Homo sapiens: one gene and its partners. The protein of the gene in region 1 interacts with the protein of each later gene in a pairwise test. Each region holds a gene or a part of one and is shown on either strand. Other genes may lie near its edges.

Evidence for each region. Proteins that work in one complex are often made in the same cells at the same time.
Region 2: the proteins of JPH3 (region 1) and AP2B1 interact in binary tests that used the Homo sapiens proteins (3 or more experiments, as listed by UniProt).
Region 3: the proteins of JPH3 (region 1) and ZSCAN9 interact in binary tests that used the Homo sapiens proteins (3 or more experiments, as listed by UniProt).
Region 4: the proteins of JPH3 (region 1) and DRG2 interact in binary tests that used the Homo sapiens proteins (3 or more experiments, as listed by UniProt).

What each region holds. Positions count from the first base shown.
Region 1 is NC_000016.10:87,686,008-87,691,152, forward strand, and holds part of JPH3 (junctophilin-3), read left to right. Parts: intron 1-3,638; coding exon 3,639-4,519; intron 4,520-5,145. UniProt on the Homo sapiens protein: Junctophilins contribute to the formation of junctional membrane complexes (JMCs) which link the plasma membrane with the endoplasmic or sarcoplasmic reticulum in excitable cells.
Region 2 is NC_000017.11:35,592,710-35,597,854, reverse strand, and holds part of AP2B1 (AP-2 complex subunit beta), read right to left. Parts: intron 3,848-5,145; 5' UTR 3,825-3,847; coding exon 3,788-3,824; intron 1,323-3,787; exon of another isoform or gene 725-1,322; intron 1-724. UniProt on the Homo sapiens protein: Component of the adaptor protein complex 2 (AP-2). Adaptor protein complexes function in protein transport via transport vesicles in different membrane traffic pathways.
Region 3 is NC_000006.12:28,222,871-28,228,607, reverse strand, and holds the start of ZSCAN9 (zinc finger and SCAN domain-containing protein 9), read right to left. Parts: upstream 3,334-5,737; 5' UTR 3,242-3,333; exon of another isoform or gene 2,925-3,241; coding exon of another isoform or gene 2,602-2,924; exon of another isoform or gene 1,677-2,601; coding exon of another isoform or gene 1,524-1,676; coding exon 1,104-1,523; intron 919-1,103; coding exon 771-918; coding exon of another isoform or gene 553-770; exon of another isoform or gene 1-552. UniProt on the Homo sapiens protein: May be involved in transcriptional regulation.
Region 4 is NC_000017.11:18,093,336-18,098,480, reverse strand, and holds part of DRG2 (developmentally-regulated GTP-binding protein 2), read right to left. Parts: intron 4,669-5,145; coding exon 4,508-4,668; intron 212-4,507; coding exon 122-211; intron 1-121. UniProt on the Homo sapiens protein: Catalyzes the conversion of GTP to GDP through hydrolysis of the gamma-phosphate bond in GTP. When hydroxylated at C-3 of 'Lys-21' by JMJD7, may bind to RNA and play a role in translation.

The DNA.
Region 1 (5,145 bases):
AAGAGGAGGAGACAGGGGCGGATGGAGTGATGTCAGAGATCACTGGAGACTCCGTGGCTGGAGGGTGGCTGGAGCGGAGACCCTGGAAGGAAGCAGCACTCCCGACACCTGGATCACGGCTTCTAACTTCCAGAAACACGAGTTTGCCTTTTGGGTGTTTCTACCCCCACCCCCGCGTGGTGCTTTACTGCTCCAGTCCCAAGAAATGGGTGCAGGCTCCCCCACCCTGAGAATTCCAGTTAAGACTCTGGAGTCGGAGATGCTTCCTGGAGGGCTCAGTCCTGGAGTCAGAGGAGATGCTTCCTGGAGGGCTCAGTCCTGGAGTCAGAGATACTTCCTGGAGGGCTCAGTTCTGGATTCAGAGGAGATGCTTCCCAGAGGGCTCAGTCCTGGAGTCAGAGATGCTTCCTGGAGGGCTCAGTTCTGGATTCAGAGGAGATGCTTCCCAGAGGGCTCAGTCCTGGAGTCAGAGATGCTTCCTGGAGGGCTCAATCCTGGAGTCAGAGATGTTTCCCGGAGGGCTCAGTCCTGGAGTCAGAGATGCTTCCTCGAGGGCTCAGTCCTGGAGTCAGAGATGCTTCCTGGAGGGCTCAGTCCTGGACTTGGAGATACTTCCTGGAGGGCTCAGTCCTGGATTCAGAGGAGATGCTTCCCAGAGGGCTCAGTCCTGGAGTCAGAGATGCTTCCTGGAGGGCTCAGTCCTGGATTCAGAGGAGATGCTTCCTGGAGGGCTCAGGTCCCTGCAGGAGGGGCCTTGGGCTGACCTTTTAAGTCCTGAAGCTGCCTCCTCCGACAGTTCTTGTCTTCATGATACAGATGCGGGCCCCTGTGGGGGCCGCTGTGATGGAGAGACGGGGCCGCTGCTGCCTCACTGGTGGGAGTCCAGTCCTCGAGGGTCTGGCCAAGTTGGCCTCACCTCCTGCTGCTGCACCTTGGAGCCTGGCTCACTCTGAGCACCTCGGTCCGATCTGCCACCTCTTTGGGTGGCGCCCCGGAGCCTTCTCTGAGCAGCATCTTCCCTGGAGGGGGCGTTGGGACCGTGTGTTTTTTACAAGCGCTGGGACTGGCATGAGATTTGATCCAAGCATTTCTTGTTTCCGCCTTGGATGCATTCAGGATCAGTGTTCCCAGACCAGGCACCCCGGGGCCTTCTCGGCTGCTGGGGAGGGGTGGGGCTGGGGGAAGCTGTCCAGGTCCTTCCTCAGTCGTCCTCACAGCCAGGAGCTGAGGTCACCAATGACAGATGACAGAACAGAGCCTCCAAGAGGGGAACAGGGTTGCCAGAGCGCTCAGGCAGGATGTGGTGGAATCAGGATTTAAAACGAGGCTCTGAAGCCTGGGCCATGCCGGCTTCTAGAGAAGCAAACCATCCAGCGCTTCGGCTGCAGAGAGTGGCTGGCGCCAGCCTCTTGCTGCCTGTCTGGGAGGTCCCTGGCAGCCTCCCAGCCCGAGAACTCTGACCGTCAGGGTTCTGCCCAAGGCCACGTGAAGGCAGGACCATGAAGGAGCCTGGCCATGCGGTGTCCAGTGCCCAGGCCACTTCCGGTGCCATCCGCCCCCGCCCCAGAGGCAGGAGGACTGAGCGTCGGAGGCTGCAGGACGCAGGTGGCTTGAAGGCACAGGAAGAAGCTGCAGGGGCTTCACGAGGACCCGCCCTGCATCCTCACCACGAGGCTTCTAGGAACGTTACCTGCTCAGCAGCTCATTCTAGCTGAGGGTGCCCTCCTGCTGGTGGTGCTGGGAGTCGGGGCCCCTCTAGCGTGGGGTCTCCTGGGCCAGCCAGGCCTGATCTCGGCAGCAGTGGGTGGACGACCTGGTGGGAAAGGCCGGGGCGCCATCGGGGGATGGGGGGGGCCTTGATCCCAGCCTGCTAGGTCCATAGCGTCTAAGGCACAGGAATGCCAGCCCCTTGGAAGTCCCATCCTGGCCAAGGAGGAGGTACGATGTGGGTGATCCGTGGGCATGATTGGGGGCCTCTGATGGGGCCAGGGCTGCCCTCCACACAGGACCCTCACGGGGAGAGAGGTGGTGGGGCTGGGCGTCAGGTGGGTACGTGGATGTCAGCACAGTTCTACACAGACCTTCTCTGGCCCATTCCCTGCTCTGCTCGGGGGACACCCAACCAGCCCAGCCCTGTTTCTGGGGAGTGACCACAGAGAAGCAGTCATTGAGACCTCAGAGTGGCCCACCCACACCCCCGTGTGACAGGAACTCAGACTTGGGAGGGCTGGCCACCCACCCAGAGCTACCCAGCTGTGCCCCAAGCCCCAGGCCAGGGCCATGGCCTCGCTCTGCTCAGCACTGCCTCTTAGACCAGCAAGGAGGAGGACACAGCAGCCCAGCCTGGTGGCGTCGCAGCGTGCCCCGAATCTGCTTGCTAACGTCTCTTTACAAACGGAGGGACTATCTGGTGCCACACCGAGGGTAGCCATGTCTCCCAGACCTTCTCCTGCCAAAAGGTCAGACTGGGGTACAGGCGTCTCCCAGACCTTCTCCTGCCAAAAGGTCAGACTGGGGTACAGGCCAGGAGAATGTCCGAGCGTGAGAGACTCTAAGATGGGCAGTGGCTCTTGGTGTCCGAGCTGGTCTCATGAGGTGGCCGCCCCGGGTAGAGCTCTGAGACCTCCGTCCTCAGAGGGAAGACTCCCCAAATTCCCACAGAGCTCTGCACCATTTTGGCTCGGGCAGGACGGGGATGCTGGGGGCGGGGGTCCCACTGTTCTGTGCTGAGCCTAGGACGCTACTTGAGATGAACGTGTAACTGTTCCCCGGAGGGTAAGAAGCGCCGCGTTCTTGGGTTTCTCCTAATGGAATAAAGTCGGGCATGGCTCCCGTGTCCCTGCGTTGGCAGGAAATGAGATCCCAGTCAATGTTCTTGGTTCTCACCTCCTGCTGGGGGCTCACGGAGCTCCGGAGAAGTCTCGGGGCTAGTCCTACAATGCTGCCCCTCCCTATCCAGGCCTCCGGGTGGGGGCTGATGGGGACTGAGCCACCGGCAGACGACAGGGACTCTGCTGGCTGCAGAGCTGGCCCCTGGGTCCTGTGGTGACCTCCCCTTCCGGGGAGCCCCGCCCTAGGACTTGAAGCCCCAGCAGCCTCGAAAGGTGGGGAGGGAAGTCGGCTCCTGGGCTCTCACGCTGGCCCCGGCACTGGCTGTTTCTCAGCAAGACTGTCCCAGCACCCTGAGACACAGTCCCAGGCGGGTAGGGGTGTTGGCGGCCTTGCTGTGACAGCTCGGCCTCCCCAGACAGGTGGTCAGCTAGGGTGAGGGGCTTCCTCTTACCCTCAGGACAGGCGAGTCAGGGTTGGTGGGACCTGAGTCCACACCCCAGCGTCCTCACGCACTTTCCGAGCCTTGGGTCTCCCTTGTAGCCTGGGAGCTGCTGTCCGCCCTTCCTGTGGTGCCTGGGCCTAGCCAGTCTCCCTCCAAGTGTCTGTGGGGTGGGGACCACGGGGGTCCCACAGAGGGCTTTGGGAGCCACGGTCCCCACTCCCCTCCCTTGCCTGCAGCCTTTCGGTGAGTGGGAAGCGCCTCTGCTGCCCTGAGGTTCCCTCTGGCGCCCTGGCCCGGGGACCGCGGCCTCGCTGTGGAATGTGCTGGGTAACGCCGTCTGGCGTCGTCTTGTGTCCCCATACAGGGCTGGAGTACCAGAGGCCGAAGCGTCAGACCTCCTGTGACGACATCGAGGTGCTGTCCACCGGGACACCCCTGCAGCAGGAGAGCCCCGAGCTGTACCGCAAGGGCACCACTCCCTCCGACCTGACCCCCGACGACAGCCCCCTGCAGAGCTTCCCCACCAGCCCCGCGGCCACCCCGCCGCCCGCGCCCGCCGCCAGGAACAAGGTCGCCCACTTCTCGAGGCAGGTGTCGGTGGACGAGGAGCGGGGCGGGGACATCCAGATGCTCCTGGAGGGCCGGGCCGGGGACTGCGCCCGCAGCAGCTGGGGCGAGGAGCAGGCCGGGGGCTCCAGGGGTGTCCGCAGCGGTGCCCTGCGCGGCGGCCTGCTCGTGGATGACTTCCGCACCCGAGGTTCGGGCCGCAAGCAGCCCGGGAACCCCAAGCCGCGGGAGCGGCGGACGGAGTCACCCCCCGTGTTCACGTGGACTTCCCACCACCGGGCCAGCAACCACAGCCCCGGAGGCTCCAGGCTGCTGGAGCTGCAGGAGGAGAAGCTGAGCAACTACCGGATGGAGATGAAACCCTTGCTGAGGATGGAGACGCATCCCCAGAAAAGACGCTACAGCAAGGGCGGCGCCTGCCGGGGCTTGGGGGACGACCACCGCCCCGAGGACCGGGGCTTCGGGGTGCAGAGACTGCGGTCCAAGGCCCAGAACAAGGAGAACTTCAGGCCGGCCTCCTCCGCGGAGCCCGCCGTGCAGAAACTGGCGAGCCTGCGGCTGGGCGGGGCCGAGCCCCGGTTGCTGCGTTGGGACTTGACCTTCTCCCCGCCCCAGAAATCCTTGCCTGTCGCTCTAGAGTCCGACGAGGAGAATGGGGATGAGCTCAAGTCCAGTACGGTGAGTGGGCGGCCACCAGGCTGGTCCCAGTGGAGGCAACATCCACCTCTCTGCTGACCTGGTGTTTCCTGAGGGTTTCCAGCAAGGTCACTGCTCCCCTGTTCCTCTCCAGGGGTGGAGTAGGGTGGGGGTACAGCCGGGAGTGGTGGCCCTCAGGTCGCTGGGACCCTCCCCTAGGAAGCCAGGTGGGGCAGGTGTCATACCTCTTTCCGTGAGAGGCTGCCCCCAGGTTGTCCAGAAAGCACACGAAACTCCTGGTTTCCAGGCAGCATGGGATCCCTGCGCTCCCCGCAACGTGCTCAACCCCAGCTGCTCCAAGAGTCTGTGCCCCTGGTCAGTAGCCTTGGGCCGTGAGATGACCGCTTGAGTGTCCTGTGTCCTGGATAGGAACCCAGAGGCGAAACAGCTGGGGGCAAGGCTGGCCCTGGGGCTGGGAGTCAGGTCTGGGGTTGGGGGGAGCTGCCAGTCCAGGTTTCTCTCACCCATGGGGGGTGTTGGGGTTGGAGCCGGCTCCCACGTGAGGCCCGCTGTGTGCAACTCACCGTCAGCCTCACCCAGCACCCCCCCCCCAAATTCGTTCCTCCAGGGCAGGCAGCTTGGAGGGAAGAACAGCGTCCCCCTGGGCT
Region 2 (5,145 bases), on another chromosome or scaffold:
GCGTATTACCTCATTTACCCACGCTCGGCTTTACAGATTAAGAAATGAGGCTCAAAGTTCACAGAGTCAGTGACAAAGTTGGGCTTAGCACTGTGTCTCCTGACTCTTGAATGCAAAGGTTCTCAGCCCTGGCCACACACTAATATTACCTGAGAAATACTAAATATAGCAAAGTACAGGCTCCACTCTGGGCCAAATAAATCATAATGTCAAAGAGAACTCATATTTATACCTTTAAGAGCTCCACCAAGTGACTCTAACGCACACCCAATGTTGAGAATCACTACTTTAATCAGTACTTTAATAAATCAGTGGGCTTTAAGGCCCTTGCTATTCAATCAAACAAGAATAATCTTGAAACCAAGAATGGTACACAATGGAGTCATTTCCAAAGGTACAATCTTGAATGACTGCTTAGGCTCCGCACTGTAAACTGTCAGGGACTGTAACCACTATTTTAAGGCCTGGTCTCCAGGCTCACCTATCTGCAAGAAGCCGGAACCAAAATAAAAAAGAAAGTAACAACCCTAATATTGTTTAAAAGAAACGGAAAAAAAACACTAAGTCCATGAAAAAGAGGTTGACTACTCCCATCTCAACTTTCCATCTACATCCTCCAGCTCATCTACCATACTGCCTCAAAAGACTTTCCTCCACCTTCAAGACTGTTCCTGTCGTTCCTTTCAACCAGATCTCATTTACCAGCATAGAAACAGTGGGGACAGTCTCCGCTTCCGGAGGTCGCTACTGCTGCCTCAGTGGCCCCGGAGCGGGGGCGCCCAGGGGTCCTTCGCCCCCGGCCACGGCCCCCACAACGGGGCTTCGCCGCCACCTGTGTCCGAGCTGGACCGTGCAGGCGCCAGGCTCCTCTCCGAAAGGCGCACGAGACAGCTTTCTTCTCCTGGTTCCACAATGGCCTCCTGGCATAGGGCATCGGGGTTATCTCCTTCATGCAGAGTGACATGGATCACGAAGCAGCATATGGCTTCTTCCTGCTGGGCGGCCTGTGTGCGGTGTGGGGCAGCGCCTGCGGGGCCTGGCAGCGCTGCGGGGGCCCATGCAGCTGACGCTAGGGGGCGCAGCTGCGGGCGCTGTACTCGCCACCAGCCCGCTCTGGGTGTGCGCCGCCGTGGGCTTCTACACCGGGCAGCTGGAGCTGGACGTGAAGCTGGTGCTCGAGGGCGACGGGGCGGCCTCCGCGGAAGGCCCTGATGAGGCAGGCTGGCCGCCACCCGAGTGAGCGACATGGCCGCCGGGCCTGGCAGGCGCGGGATGACGGCGCCCGAGGACTGGGACATTAAAACCTGACCTCCCCTCCTCCAAAAAAAAAAAAAAGAAAGAAATAGTGGGGACAAACACTACGTGATTTGCCTGAAACCATTATGTGGAAAGGATGAAATTAGTAAGACACAGAAGTAGAGCACTTTTTCGTTTCAATATCCATGGCCAATAAGGCAAAAAAATTGTTCCAAAATTTCTATTTAATCAACAGCTACAAAAGTAGCATAGCAAGAAAAGCTGGGCCCTTTAAAGAGTCATTCTTCATAGGACTCTTCACCATGTCCCATCCTGCCAAATCCAGCTCTTAGAGTTCCTCTCATTCACTTCCGGGAACAGTGAAGGACAAACGGCGGGGTTTCAGAAAGTCTGAATTGTGAACAGCAGCAGGTGTTATAGAATCAAAGCAGGATGTAACAGAAATTATTCCAATTCCAAAAGCATAAATTTAAAGAATATGTTTCAGTGGCAGTTCTGGTGGGTGTTGCAGGAAGTACAGGGAACACAATCTATCAATTTTTTTTAAGTATGATGTTTATTAGCAGTGATTCAATCTGCAGTCTCAAACTTTTACAAATGCCTGAATTAAAAAAAGGTCACCAGGACACTTTTCAAGAGTAGGTTTGAAGAATTAGGAGAGTTTTAAAATTATAACTATTTAATTGTAATTGTATCCCTTTATATAATTATAGACATTTTGTTCGTCAAAGCACACAAAATGCTAACAGAAGAAGAAATAAACATATTTCCAAAAGAAAATCAGAAAAAGCTGAGACTGAATGACAAGTGGCTAATGGCTTTTGTGAGGTGTAAGTAATAAAAATAAGGAGGAAAAAGTTGGGCAGGACCAAAGAGGGGTACTAAAAGAGGCAAAGTCATATATTCTACAACTTTATTAAATTCCTATATTTTCTCCCTCCTCCTCCCCCCAATCAAATCTACCAAGCACTGTTAGCAGCTAGCAGTAGTTCTCAATCATGGCTGCACATTAAAATAATCTGGGGAGCTTTCTTTTTAATTTTTTTCTTTTGAGACAGGGTCTCTCTCTGTTGCCTAGGCTGGGGTACAGCGGCACAATCACGACTCACTGCAGCCTCAACCTCCTGCACTCAAGTGATCCTCCCACCTCAGCCTCCCAAATAGCTGGGACTACAGGTGTGCACCACCGTACAGGGCTAATTTTTAAATTTTTTTTCATAGAGATAGGGTCTTACCATGTTGCCCAGGCTGGTCTCAAACTCCTGCACTCAAACAATCCTCCTGTCTCAGCCTCCCAATGTGCTGGGATTACAGGCATAAGCCACCATGCCTGGCCACCTGGAGAACCTTTAAAATCCTCACACCCAGACCATATCCAGGACAACTGAAATCAGGCTGAGGTTGAGACCCAGGCATCAGTATTATTTCAAAGTTCCCTGGCTGAGCAATTCTGATGTGTTGCCAAGACTGAAAGCTACAGACAACAAACTGACATAATTAAGCAACTCACTGCAACAAGAGAAAAAGAAGAATGGTAGTTGGCGCCATGTCTGGAATACTTTGGTAAATGTAAGGACTCCTGAACACAAAAGCACAGAATTCTGATCCTAAGCAACAAATAAAGCAAGCTAAGCTACAGGCACAATAAGCTGAGATGGGCTAAAATGTTTGTCTTTGATGGGAAGACCCTCCACATTTCTAGAAATGATCTATTTTATTTAGGAACAATTTTACAAAAGATGAAGGGTTGGACTTTCCCCAGAAGAATCCTTTGTTCCTAGACCCAAACTCATAGGTAAAAACAAGCATTATATTACTGATAACAAAGATGATGAGAGTAATAAGTGCAAAGTCCCTCAAGTAATTCCGTCTATGACCTAAAAACCATAGATGGCTCTAGAGATTCCGTTTTAAATATACATCTAGACGAAGAACATGGTAGATGTATATGGACGGATATGAAAATAACTCATTTCTATTCATTGTTTTGCAAGATTGCTTTTTCATTAAAGATAAAAAAATTTTAAATCATATGTATTAATATATGCACTCATATGCAGAGAAAAAGACTTGAGGATATACACCAAGTTCCCTTGGGAATAGGAACAGGAAGGGAGAACTTTCATTTTTACCTTTTACATACATATCTGTATTGCTTTAATTGTATTCTTTGTTATAAAATGTTTATTTCCAAGTAAAAATTATTTAATAAAAGGGAAAAAGTATGCTGCTTCTTTTGTCCTCCTCACACTTAACCAATCTCCAATGGATCATCTCAAACAGCAAAGAGGAGTCTCTTTCACTAAACAGAACCTTCAAGTCATAATAATGTGCATCACAGCCCTCTCTTTTAAAACCTACTCTTTAATAACTTGCTTGAATACATTCATCTATAGAAGTAGTAGATGTCCAGTGAGATTGTCAGCTACATGTATGTCTGAAGGAAGAGGTCAGCAGCATTCTGCCTGGGGCAATCTTACACTACAACTTTTGAAAATTTCAAAAGATTTGATTGTATTCTCATACTTACCTTTTTTATTGGTTGTGAAATACTTGGAGTCAGTCATGACTTTGGATCTTTAATGTGCACCTATAGCAAGAGAAAAGAATTCCTTCATTCAGGTTATAGATATCCAACAAGGCATCCAATTAATTTTAAGAACATCCAATTAATTTTAGGAACACTTATATTTAAGAATTTCTAAAAATGAGTATCATCTTCCTTTATCACCACCGTTGATGGTTCAAGAAAAACTAAGAATGTAACTCCTCAAGCTAATGGGGCAAAAATCTAAAGGCCAAATGCAACTGGGTAAAAGTATGAACCTATTATGGCTTTGTGATTTTATCCACAGTAACTCCTCAAAGCTTTCAAGAGCTAAAGCTGGACCTTTTTATAAATATATCTGCAATTACTTTCCATTCAGGAAAATCTGGTAACTTCCTTGCCTCAAGCTGGAATCACTCCAAAACATATATTCTGAAGCAGTGTAAGGTCAAAAGAAAAAACAATTTTGCCGATCTATGACATGAAACTTTCAATAAAAAGAATCTCTTTCAGAAAAAAAAAATTCAAAATTAGTAGGACAATATTCTTTCACAACAAACATCTAGAGAGGCAACCATGACTTATGCATGGAATTTTTTTAATTTTTAGTTTTGTGGGTATTTAGTAGGTGCGTATAGGTACATGAGATATTTTGATAACAGGCAGACAATGCATAATAATTACATTAGTGTAAATGGGATATCCATCACCTCAAGCATTTATCCTTTCTTTGTATTATAAACAATTCAATTACATTCTTTTAGTTATTTTTAAATGTACAGTAAATTATTGTTGACCGCAGTCACCCTTTTGTGCTATCAAATACTAGATCTTATTCATTGTATCTAACTATATTTTTGGATTTAAAAAAAAATGTGGCTTTCTTACTTCCAACAATCCAGATTTAGCCCAAGAGTATTCCCAAATAATGCCAGTTTATAGTTAAAAACAAGGCAAAAGACTGAGACATCCGTTCAGACACGAGAATCAAACTGGTGTTGAAACAAAAGAACGTGGATCTCAACCTCAACCTTAACTCTTCCATCCCAATTTCCAGAAGAAGTAATCCAGATGACAAATGGCTCTACTAACAAAAACGGCACAGTCTGGTCACATTTTTACTAAATAATAAGACTACTTTTTCTGATTTGAGAAACTATAAGACTTTGTCCAATGTACCAGACTTCTTTAAATATATTAAAATTTTGGGGCCAGGCACAGTAGCTCACGCCTGTAATCCCAGCACTTTGTGAGGCTGCCGGGTGGATCACTTGAGGTCAGGAGTTCAAGACCAGCCTCGCCAACATGGTGAAATCCTGTCTCTGCTAAAAATACAAAAT
Region 3 (5,737 bases), on another chromosome or scaffold:
AAATTGTATTCCCTCACATATGCTGAGGTCCTAACCCCTCAATATGATTATATTTGGAGATAGGGCCTTGAGGAAGGTATTAAAAGTTAAATGAGGTTATAAGGAAGGGCCCTATCGGGTAGGAATGGTATCTGTCCTTATAAGATGAGAGAGCTTGCTCTCTCTCTGTATGCATACAGAAGAAAGGCCATGTGAGGATACAGCAAGAAGATGGCCATCTATAAGCCAGGAAGAGGCCTCACCAGAAACCAAACCTGATGGTATCTTGATCTTGGACTACTAGCCTTTGAAAATGTGAGAAAATAAATTTCTGTTAAAGACAACCAGTCTGTGGTATTCTCTTAAGGCAGCGCAAGTAGACTAAACCAAAGCTATTATCAACCCCATTTTGTAGATGAGGGATCTGAGGTCAAGTGGTTAAGTAATCTGCCCAATACAAGCAGCTTCCATGAGGCGATGCCAGGATCTGAACCTGTCTGTCAAACCTTGAAGTCCATTCTCTGAAGCTGTGCTCCACAGCGATCCCTGAAAGCCTTCCTCATGTACCATGCATCAGAAGTCCAGAAAGCTTCCAGGGTGGTACTCAGGGAGAAGTCTGCACGCAGGGAGAAGGGTCAAAGATGAGCACACTAGGCTCTCAGAAGAACTGACCATTACTGCTATCTGGTAAGGAGTCTTTGGGTCTCCTGTTTTCCCAGCTCTGGGTTTATTGTTTGTTTTTGCTTGACCAGGTGGGATTCGTTCAACATCAAATAAATGCTGTCCCTCACCTGTCTCTCCAATAGAATGGCACTTCTGAGCAGAGTCACATGTGAGCTGTGGCTCCTTAGGCTGGGACTGAAGGGTCAGTGGTGTCTGCTCTGCTAGAGGCACCATCTCTTTACAGAGGACTTCTTGTCTGTGTCTGTGGGCCACCATCTGGGGACAAAAAGACAAGATTTGACTTTTGAAGAAATTAACTGTCTGAAATAAACACTTCCAAGAAAGAAGGAAACAGGAAGAGAGTATTTTATCACCAATGTCAAGGAGACACAAAGCAGAAGTGACAAGGATTCTTGGCATGCCAAAATACACATTTTTCTCTAGCAAATCTCCCTTCCTACCTCATGTTGTGGTTCATCGAGCTCTCTCTCCAGATCCTCCAGCAAAATCACAGCCTCTTCTCCACTCTCTGGACAGTGTTCCCTCACCCAGCCCTGGAGCTCCTTGGGCAGAATGGATAGAAACTGCTCCAGCACCAGCAGATCCAAAATCTGCTCCTTTGTGCTCACATGTGGCCTCAACCACTGGTAGCAAAGTTCCTGGAGTCGAGTAAGAGCCTCCCTTGGTCCAGGGGTCTCTTGGTAGCACAGCTGTCGAAAGTGCCTTCGGAAGATTTCCCTTGCCAGTGGATTACTGCGTTTCAGTCTGGATTCCTGCCATTGAAGGTGACTTTTTGCTTCCACTTTCATTGTCAGAAGTTCTTCCCATGCCTCGGGAACTTGAACACCCAGGGATAAAACCTCCTTTGAGTTTGTATTCATCTTGACCTTGAACAGCTTAAAAGGTACCCTCCAGCTGGAGCTATGCTTCAAGACAAACCTTGGAGGCGCTTGCCTAAGCAGTAAAAATAAATTATTTATATAGAAAAATGATAATAGCTGATGACAGAAACTGATAATACAAGCAATTATCATAGGCCCTAAAGCTCTTCTCTGAAAAGTGATTTGGTGACCAAAGGATGGAAATAATGGAAATATATATATTCATAATGTGCTAAGAGCATAAGCTTTTAAGTTACCCAGATATGGGTTTTCTTTCTTTCTTTTTTTTTTAAATGGGGAATTTCACTCTGTTTCCCAGGCTGGAGTGCAGTGGCATAATCACAGCTCACTGCAACCTCAAACTCCTGGGTTTAAGTGATCCTCCCACCTTGGCTTCCCAAAGTGCTGGGATTACGTCAGCCACCACAGCTGACCCAGACCTAGGTTTTATTCTGATCCTAATATTTACTAGTTGTGTGACCTTGTGCCAAGTTTTTAAATCTTCTTTCAATCTTGATTTCTTTATGTGAAGAAGAAATAGCAATAATGCTTCACAGAGTTCATGGAGGAAAACAGCCCATGAATTAGGGACTGCACCGATCACTCAGAAAGTCTGAATAAAAAGTTTGAACTCACTGTATAAACATCAACTTAGAGAAAGAATAAATGGAAATATTGTTACTGTCGACTAAATGAACGAACCAACATTTACTTTACTATTTACTTCAGTTTTCTTAATCTTCAAAACAACCATTTAAGGTTAGTATTATTTTCACTAAATTTACAGAAAGAAAGGCTTAGGTGGATTCCAAGTCCTGGAGCTTTCCACACCGCCCTGCTGCTACTGAAGAATAACAGTCAACACTGCACAAGTCTACAATATGCTTTCAGATACAAGACTATATTTCATCCTCACAATTACCCACTGAGGTTTTATTATAATAATTATTTCACTAGATAAGAAATGGAAGCCAGGGAAAGTTAAGTAGATTGCCCAAGGTCAACTTCTTTTTGAGGACAATCCTAAGAAGCCAAAGAAGCCCAAGGGAAAAGTTTTCTCCACAGACGCAGGAAGCACCTGAAACCCATGGGGGTGTTCCCAAAATGTGTGTCTCCAAAATGCCAGGAAGCACAGCGCAGCAGCTGAATTCCAGCTTGAAAGGCCCTATGGCAGACATCTGGGGAATCTGAATTGGGAGGTGGAGAGAAGTACAGGGAGACCCAGAATATGCCCTTTAACGGGCTCCTCAGTGATTTGTATGTATTATAAGGTTTGAGAATCAATGAACTAAGGAAAAGGGAATCGGGAACTGCTACATTCTGCGCTTGAAAACCAGTCCATTCAACGCCCCTTAATTTGCTTTCAGAATCTAGAGGTAAGAGGGTATACAGGTTCTCCATCGTGAAGGCTGCCAAAGTCTTAATTGTCCTTAACTTCCTCTCCCGGGTGTTTCTTTCCCTGAGTCCTAAGCCTGTTGTCGTTATTCACCGAGGTGACCCTTCAGCCTCGCAGTCCTCCTACAACCCTTTCTTGTACAATGTCCCCACAGCTGGGGATGACCACTCTGGTCTAGGGGACGCCCGAAGCCGCCCGGCACTGACCGCCGCCCCCTCCTCCGGCTCCCACTTCCCAGCGGCTGAGGTTCACTTTCCACACCCCTTTTCCAGCCCCACCCTCCCTGACCCGCCTCCATTCCCGGTCCCCACAGCCAACTCACGAGACCCGGAACGCGCAAGGAGGGAGAGGGGGTTACCGGCCCGGCGTTGCTAGAAGCGCGGCACGAACAATGGCCGGGCAGGGAACAAAGATGCCGACCTCTCCTCGAAGGCGGACGGAGCAGAGGCACTTCCGGGCCGGTCTAGGATTCCATGTCTCGATGTCCGGCGTTCACCTTGCTTCGGACTCAACCCCCAATTTCCTGGCGTCCAGTTCTTTTTCAGCAGTGAATCACATAATCAGAATGTCATACGTGTGTGGGCCGCACACAGGTTTTAAACGGAAAACGTTGATGAAGCATAGACCGTTAACTATTGAAAATGATGATTTTTAAAAGCATTTTTAAAATTAATACATTATTTATGGTTTAAAAACCCTCAGACAATACCAAAATTAATAAAGTAAAATGTCAAACCCCACCTACCCCTCCTTAGTCCCACTCCCCGAGGCAGCCACTGTCACCGTTAGCCTGGAATTTGTATATCATTGTGATCCTCTCTCACACACACAATGGCATTATTTTATATTTAGCCTTTTCTCCCCCGCTTATTTTAACGTTTTCACTTCATGTATCCTAAAAAGCTTTACTCATCATGTAAGTCTAACTTATTGTATGGGTGCATAACAGTCCATAAAGCAATTTATTTGTCCAGGCCCCTATGTATTCTTTATTTAGGCATCTGCCTGCGTGCTTGCCTTCTTTCCTCCCTCCCTTCCTCTTTTCCTACCTTCCTCCCTCCCTTCCTGCCTTTCTCCCATCCTCCTTTCCTTTTCTTTCTTTCTTGTTTTTGTTTTTTGTTGTTTTTTTTTTTTGCTGTAAAAGTTTTCTGGAGTTTTAGTAATAATAATACAAAATCAAACCAAAACCAATTAAATAAATTTGTCACCCAGGCTGGAGTGCAGTGGCACCATCATAGCTCACTGCAGACTGCAACTCCTGGCTCAAGCAATCCTGCCTCAGCCTCCTGAGTAGCTGGGACTACAGTCACATACCACCATGCCCAGCATTTTTTTTGGGGGAGGGGGGTAGAGACCAGGGTCTCGCTTTGTTGGCCAGGCTGGTCTCTAACTCCTGACCTCAAGTGATCCTCCCACCTCCGCCTGGCAAAGTGCTGGTACAGGCATGAGCCACCATGCCCAGCCTTAAATAAATTTTATTGGTACAAAAGAGCGTAATTGTAGGTACTGTTAGTCATTCATCAGTTTTACTATGCCAACCAGAATGATGGTGTCACGTAGATTAAACTATATTCTGTTTGTTTTAACAGAATCTTATCATTTATTTTATTAAAGCAGTAAGAAAGTATCTTGTGTGTTAATGGAGGCTCCATGATCTGTTTTAACTCCAAAACGGTAGTAGCTCGGAAAATTTCTTTATTATTTTCCTCAACCTAGCCTTCTGAGGGCATTAAATAAACCCAAGCTTTATGCTTTACTTCTTTTTCTTTCAAATATCCAATAAGTATATAATCAATAAGAGCACTAACATGCAGAAAATTTGCTCAAAAATCCTCATCACTTTTTCCACCATACCATGTTCACTTGCAAATCCCTCATTACAAACTTTCCTAACAAACTATGAAATGAGAGTAAATGCTCAATTTCTCTTGGACTTGAATAGACTGTTTAAATATGTTATTCTTTTCCATTTTGTATGACCATCTGTGACAAGTAAATGCAATTTAATATTTGTATGAAACTTCTTAAATGTCTCACTGGCAGTTGGTTAGGGTCTCTCACTGGTTTATATGTGCTTGCTAAGTGGGTCAACTATAGGGCTCAGGCAGGCTCCAGCCCAGAGTCAAGTGGGCAGCACGTTGGACTTCACAATGGTTAGCCCTGAGAGAGACTGGCTTTCATTTGTCTGTTTCCGGGAAGATTCCACTATAGCAGTACTTTGATGAGTATCCTGGGACAGAAGGGATTATTTTTAACATATAACTGGGAATCCGTACTGAATATTGAAAATGCCACACCAACTCAAAGACAAGAAATACTGACTGCAAAATCAACCAAAAAGGTTAAGGATTACCTGAATCTAGAAGCAGGCATATTGGGATACTAACTCGGCTGTGGGTTATGCCATAAGCTAAAAAAATTAAGATGAAATAAAACAAAAAGAAAGAAGACAGAAAGAAAGAAAGAAAGACAAAGCAAGCAAGAAGGAAGGAAGGAAGGAAAGAAAGAGAAAGAATGAAAGAAAGAAAAAAGAAAGAAAGAAGGAAAGAAAAGAAAGAAAGAGAGAGAAAGAAAGGAAAAGAGGGAGACAGGGAAAAAGGAAGGAAGGAAGGACTTGGAGGATTGGTGACAAAGAGATTATTGATGGAACTAGCTCGTATGTGGATAGATCTCTTAGAATGGATATCAAATGTACAAATATTTGTGTCCTGTATGAATCTTCATTAACCCACTGTGTCAGAGGGTTTCAGTAAGCAAGTGAACAAGATGATGGTGAAACAGAACATGGACTCCTCCTCTTCATAGCCTACTGGGATCC
Region 4 (5,145 bases), on another chromosome or scaffold:
AGTCCAGAGCCTGTCCTGACATGGGGACATCCACCCAGACTCACACACAGGGTGGGCACAGGCACAAGTCCAAACACAAGCATGCGCCCCTTCTCCTTCTGGGCCCAGCACACCCACTTACTTCAATGACCCCAGGAATACACGTCAGAGTGGTGAACTCATAGGACGCTGCCTCGCTGGCCGTGGAGGTCATCAGACTCAAGAATGTGGACTAGGAGAAAAGGAGATCATTGCACTGAGGAGCCTTGTCCCTGGCCTTCTGGGAGAGGCCCCAGGGGCTGGGGGCCTGCAGGTGCAGGCAGCAGGAGGAGACCCTCTCACCCTCGGCTTGGTGACCTAGGTGGCTGTGAAGAGACCTCCCAGCCAGAGGGCTCACCTCTGGCCCTGTCCTGGATGGGTCAGACACCAGAGGCCCATCTGTTCCTTGGAGGCCTCAGGACTGTCTCAGGTAGAGGCAGGGATCTGGATTCTGATGGGGTTCCCCATATACATCAGGAGCCTCTCCTAACCCCACACAATCCTCCAGGCCCTCTTGGCCCCAGAGAACTTTAAGCAGGTGGCAGTCCCACGGCACTCGTGGAACCAGTACCCAGACATGCTGTGCACCCAGGGAGGGTGTAAGGAGGTGTGCAAGGAGATGTCAACCTCCTGGGCTGAGGCAGAGACAGCTGACAGGAGAGGTGTCGCAGGGAGGGAGTGGGGAACTGGGAAGATGTGGATGTGACCACTCAGACCACCGTTCACTGTGGCTGGGAGTTGGAGAAACCTGGCTTTGAATCCTGCCTCTGCCGGGGTGTCCTGGGATTGGGCAGGAAACTCCATACTCTCAGTTCAGGGTCTTTACATGTAGAATGGGCATGAACCCGGTCCCTACCTCACAGGACTGCACAGGGATTAAAAAGATAAGGCCCGGGATGTGCCTCACTCCAAACACTGTAACATCAGTGATAGATGCTGTGGCTGAGGCCAGCCAAGCAGTGGGCAGACCCAGGGAGGGAAGAAACCCAGCCCCATGCCTCCTGCCCCATCCTAATCAGCAGGGCCCCAGGAACGAGAAGCCTGAGACTCTGAGTTGCAGGGCCAGCTATCCAGACCCTGCCTCCTGGCTGACTGGCAGGAAGACTGGGGGCACCCTCCCCAAGGCACCCTTAGACCTCTCAAGTCCAGAATGTGGCATGTGATGGAAATACATCGAGTTCCCAAATCCAGAAACCCTCAGCCTTGGGGATCTCCTGGAAACTCAAGAAATGAGAAAAACCTGGTGGAGTGGACAGGTATAGGGATAGACACGGTGGCCCCAAGAGCAATGGCTGTTGAGACAGCCAGCAACCAACCTCGGGGCCACTCCCTGATTCTGTCTGGCCCCTGTAAGACCTGGGCCCTCCCACGGTGGGAGAGCCTATACTCCCAATAAGGCAGGTGGGATCTGCCATGGGCCCAGACTTCAAGGGTCACGGCTCTTGGTAACTAGAGCGGCTTCTCTATCAATCTCTCTCTCTCTGATACATATACCAATCATATAGGCAGACAGTACAACAAATAAAACTAAACACTGCCCAGCCTGCAGCAAGCACTCAAGAAAAGGTAGCTGTTAACCACCATCCCCTGTGCCTGGCCCAGAGCAATGGAAACTGGGTGTGGGCTCAAATTGTTCAGCTGAACTGAGTTAGAAGCTGCTCCCCAGCACCTGTCCAGAGCTTTGGTTGTTGCTCACTTGGCCTATATTCTAGCAACCTCTCCACTGTCCCACTTCACTTTGCCCTGCTATAACCTGCTATCTACACAACAGCCAGAGTGATTCTGTAAAAAAGTAAGTCAGCGCCCAGATGGTAGTTTCTAATGCTATTCTCCAATCAAAGGAACCAGGGCTCCTTAGAGAAATGGCAGATTCTAGGCCAGGGCAGGGAATATACAAAATGAGCCTGAGGCATCTTGCAGTGTCAGAAAGTGAGGAAGTGCTGGAAAAACACAATGGTGGAAGTACATCAAAGAAGCCAACTAAAATAGCTCCAAAGCTAAAAAGATTTGAGCAGCAAAAGAACATGGTATGGGTTTAGACCCCAAAGCACAAAATAACCCCCCACGAATCCATACGGATATCAATAAATGATTGAATAAAACAAATGAATGGGAGAAGAGAGACAAATCTCCCATGCAGAAGAATTCCAAACAGTTTCTGTAGATGCTCCCCTCAAGGAGGCGATGGAATTGGACTGCACACAGTCACCTCCCTCCCCAAAGCGGCATGGCAAGGGGAGAAGAGAGCGTCTCCACGGTGGAGAAACCTGACACACCTCAGCCAGGTGGTCAAGATCAACATCAGCAGGGGTAAGTCATGTTGACAGTATGTGGCCTTCATGCGATGTGATAAAAATGGCACTTTACCTCTGTGGCCTTCCTTGCTAACTATAACCCCAGATTAACCACGAGAAAAACATTGGACACACCCCAACTGAAGGACTTTCTACAAAATATGGGAATGGTACTCCTTAAAACCGTCAAGGTTATCAAATCAAGGCAAGTCTAAGGAACTGTCTAGAAGAGCCTAAGGAGACATAACAACTGAACTGTGATGTGGGATCTCAGGACAGAAAAAGGACAGTGGGGAGGAGCTAAGGAAATCTGCATAAAGCCAGACTTGAGGCAAGAACAGATCAATATTCATTGGTGTAAAATGTTAACTGCCAGGGAAAATGGGTGTGGGGTATATGGGAACTCTGTATTACCTTTGCAATTTTTCTGTAAATCTAAGACTATTCTAAAATAAAAAGTTTACTTTAGGCCGGGCGCGGTGGCTCACGCCTGTAATCCCAGCACTTTGGGAGGCCAAGGGCGGGTGGATCACCTGAGGTCAGGAGTTCAAAACCAGCCTTGCCAACATGGTGAAACCCTGTCTCTACTAAAAAAGGATACAAAAAATTAGCCGGGCGGGGTGGTGCATGCCTGTAATCCCAGCTACTTGGGAGACTGAGGCAGGAGAATTGCTTGAACCTGGGAGGCGGAGGTTGTAGTGAGCTGAGATCGTGCCATTGTACTCCAGCTTGGGCAACAAGAGTGAAACTATACCTCCAAAAAAAAAAAAAAAAAAAAAAAGAGCCGATCAGACATCTCTTTTCTGCTCAAAACCCTGCAATGATGTTTATTTTATTCCTCACATAAAAGTAAATCACGCCGGGAACGGTGGCTCATACCTGTAATCCCAGCACTTTGGGAGGCCAAGGTGGGCGGATCACCTGAGGTCAGAAGTTCGAGACCAGCCTGGCGAACGTGGTGAAACCCCACCTCTACTAAAAATGCAAAAATTAGCCAGGGGTGGTGGCGGATGCCTGTAATCCCAGCTACTCGGGAGGCTGATTGATAACTGCTTGAACCCAGGAGACAGAGGTTGCAGTGAGCCGAGCAAGACTCCATCTCAAAAAAAAAAGTAAACCAATATAGATTATACGCTAAACAGAGCAACTTCCAGAAGAAACCTTCTTTTTTTTTTTTTTTTTTTTTTTTTTTTTGAGATGGAGTTTTGCTCTTGTTGCCCAGGCTAGAGTGCAATGGTGCAATCTCGGCTCACCGCAACCTCTGCTTCCCAGGTTCAAGCGATTCTCCTGCCTCAGCCTCCCGAGTAACTGAGATTACAGGCATGCGCCACCACCCCTGGCTAATTTTGTATTTTTAGTAGAGACAGGGTTTCTCCATGTTGGTCAGGCTGGTCTTGAACTCCCAACCTCAGGTGATCCACCCACCTTGGCCTCCCAAAGTGCTGGGTTTACAGGTGTGAGCCACCGCGCCCGGCCGAAGAAACCTTCTAAAAACTCTGCAGTTTCATTCTTCAATCCAAGCCAGGGTCCTTTCGGCCGCCCATATGCCGCTATCCTCTCTGTCTTCTGCCCTCCTTGTGCTCCTCAGAGAGCCACCTGGGCCTCCCTGGACACACCAAGCGAGCACCTGCCTAAGGGCCTGTGCTCACTGTTCCCTCTGTCTGGAAGGTTCTCACCCAGGACTCTGCAAGCTCACTCACTTCCTTCAGGCCCCTGCCCAAATACTCACTCACCAGAGAAACCTGCCGGGACCTGTCGTAACTAGCAGACCTTCACCCTGTCACTCACCAGCCCCCACTCCTCACCACTGGATGCACCTTATTACTTATTTACTGTCCTTTCTCTTCAAGAATGGGAGATCTATGTGGGCAGGGACAGAGCTCTGTCTCATTCATGCTATGTCTCTAGTCCCTGGCACAGTGCCCAGCACATGACACCGCTAGAGATACACACTCGAGAAGTATTTGTGTGTGATGACTGAGTCGGAAGACCAAGTAGGGCTCCATCTGCTGGCAAGAGGAAAGAGCGTCCTCCATGTTAGGATGATAAAGGGCTGGGATCTGACCCTGGGGGAGGCCAGGTCTTCTGTGTCCCTGGAGCTAAGCAGAAAGGCAGCGAGGGGAGCCTGGATGGTCACCTGTTTGAAAGATGACTTCTTGCTTTCCTCCCCGAGGCCCACACTGACCATCACTGACCTTACCCACAGAGGGAAATCCAATCAGCGCCACACGGGCATCACCCGACTTCATGACATCAAAGCCCTCTCCTTTGGACGAGGCCGATTTGGACGGTTCCAGGAGCTGGGCCCGATACTTGGCGAGCTTAGCTTTCAGCAGGCCCAGATGATACTCAGTGGCTAAAGGATGGAAAGCAAGACAGAAGATGAGTGGCCAGGGTGTCCAAGCCCAGGGGTCAGGCAGGGCCCACATGTCGCCAAGTGCTGGCTGGGAAGCAACTGCTGTCAAGGAGATCAGGAGAAAAAAAAAAAATCTCTCTGCTTAAAAGGCCCCCTTGGCTTCTCACTTCATTTAAGATAAAATCCAGTCTCTTAGACCGGGCGCAGTGGCTGACGCCTGTAATCCCAGCACTTTGGGAGGCCGAGGCGGGTGGATCACCTGAGGTCAGGAGTTCGAGACCAGCCTGACCAACATGGAGAAACCCTGTCTCTACTAAAAATACAAAATTAGCTGGGCATGGTCGTTCATGCCTGTAATCCCAACTATTTGGGAGGCTGAGGCAGAAGAATCACTTGACCCAGGAGGCAGAGGTTGTGGTGAGCCGAGATCACGTCATTGCACTCCAGCTTGGGCAACAACAGTGAAACTCCATCTCA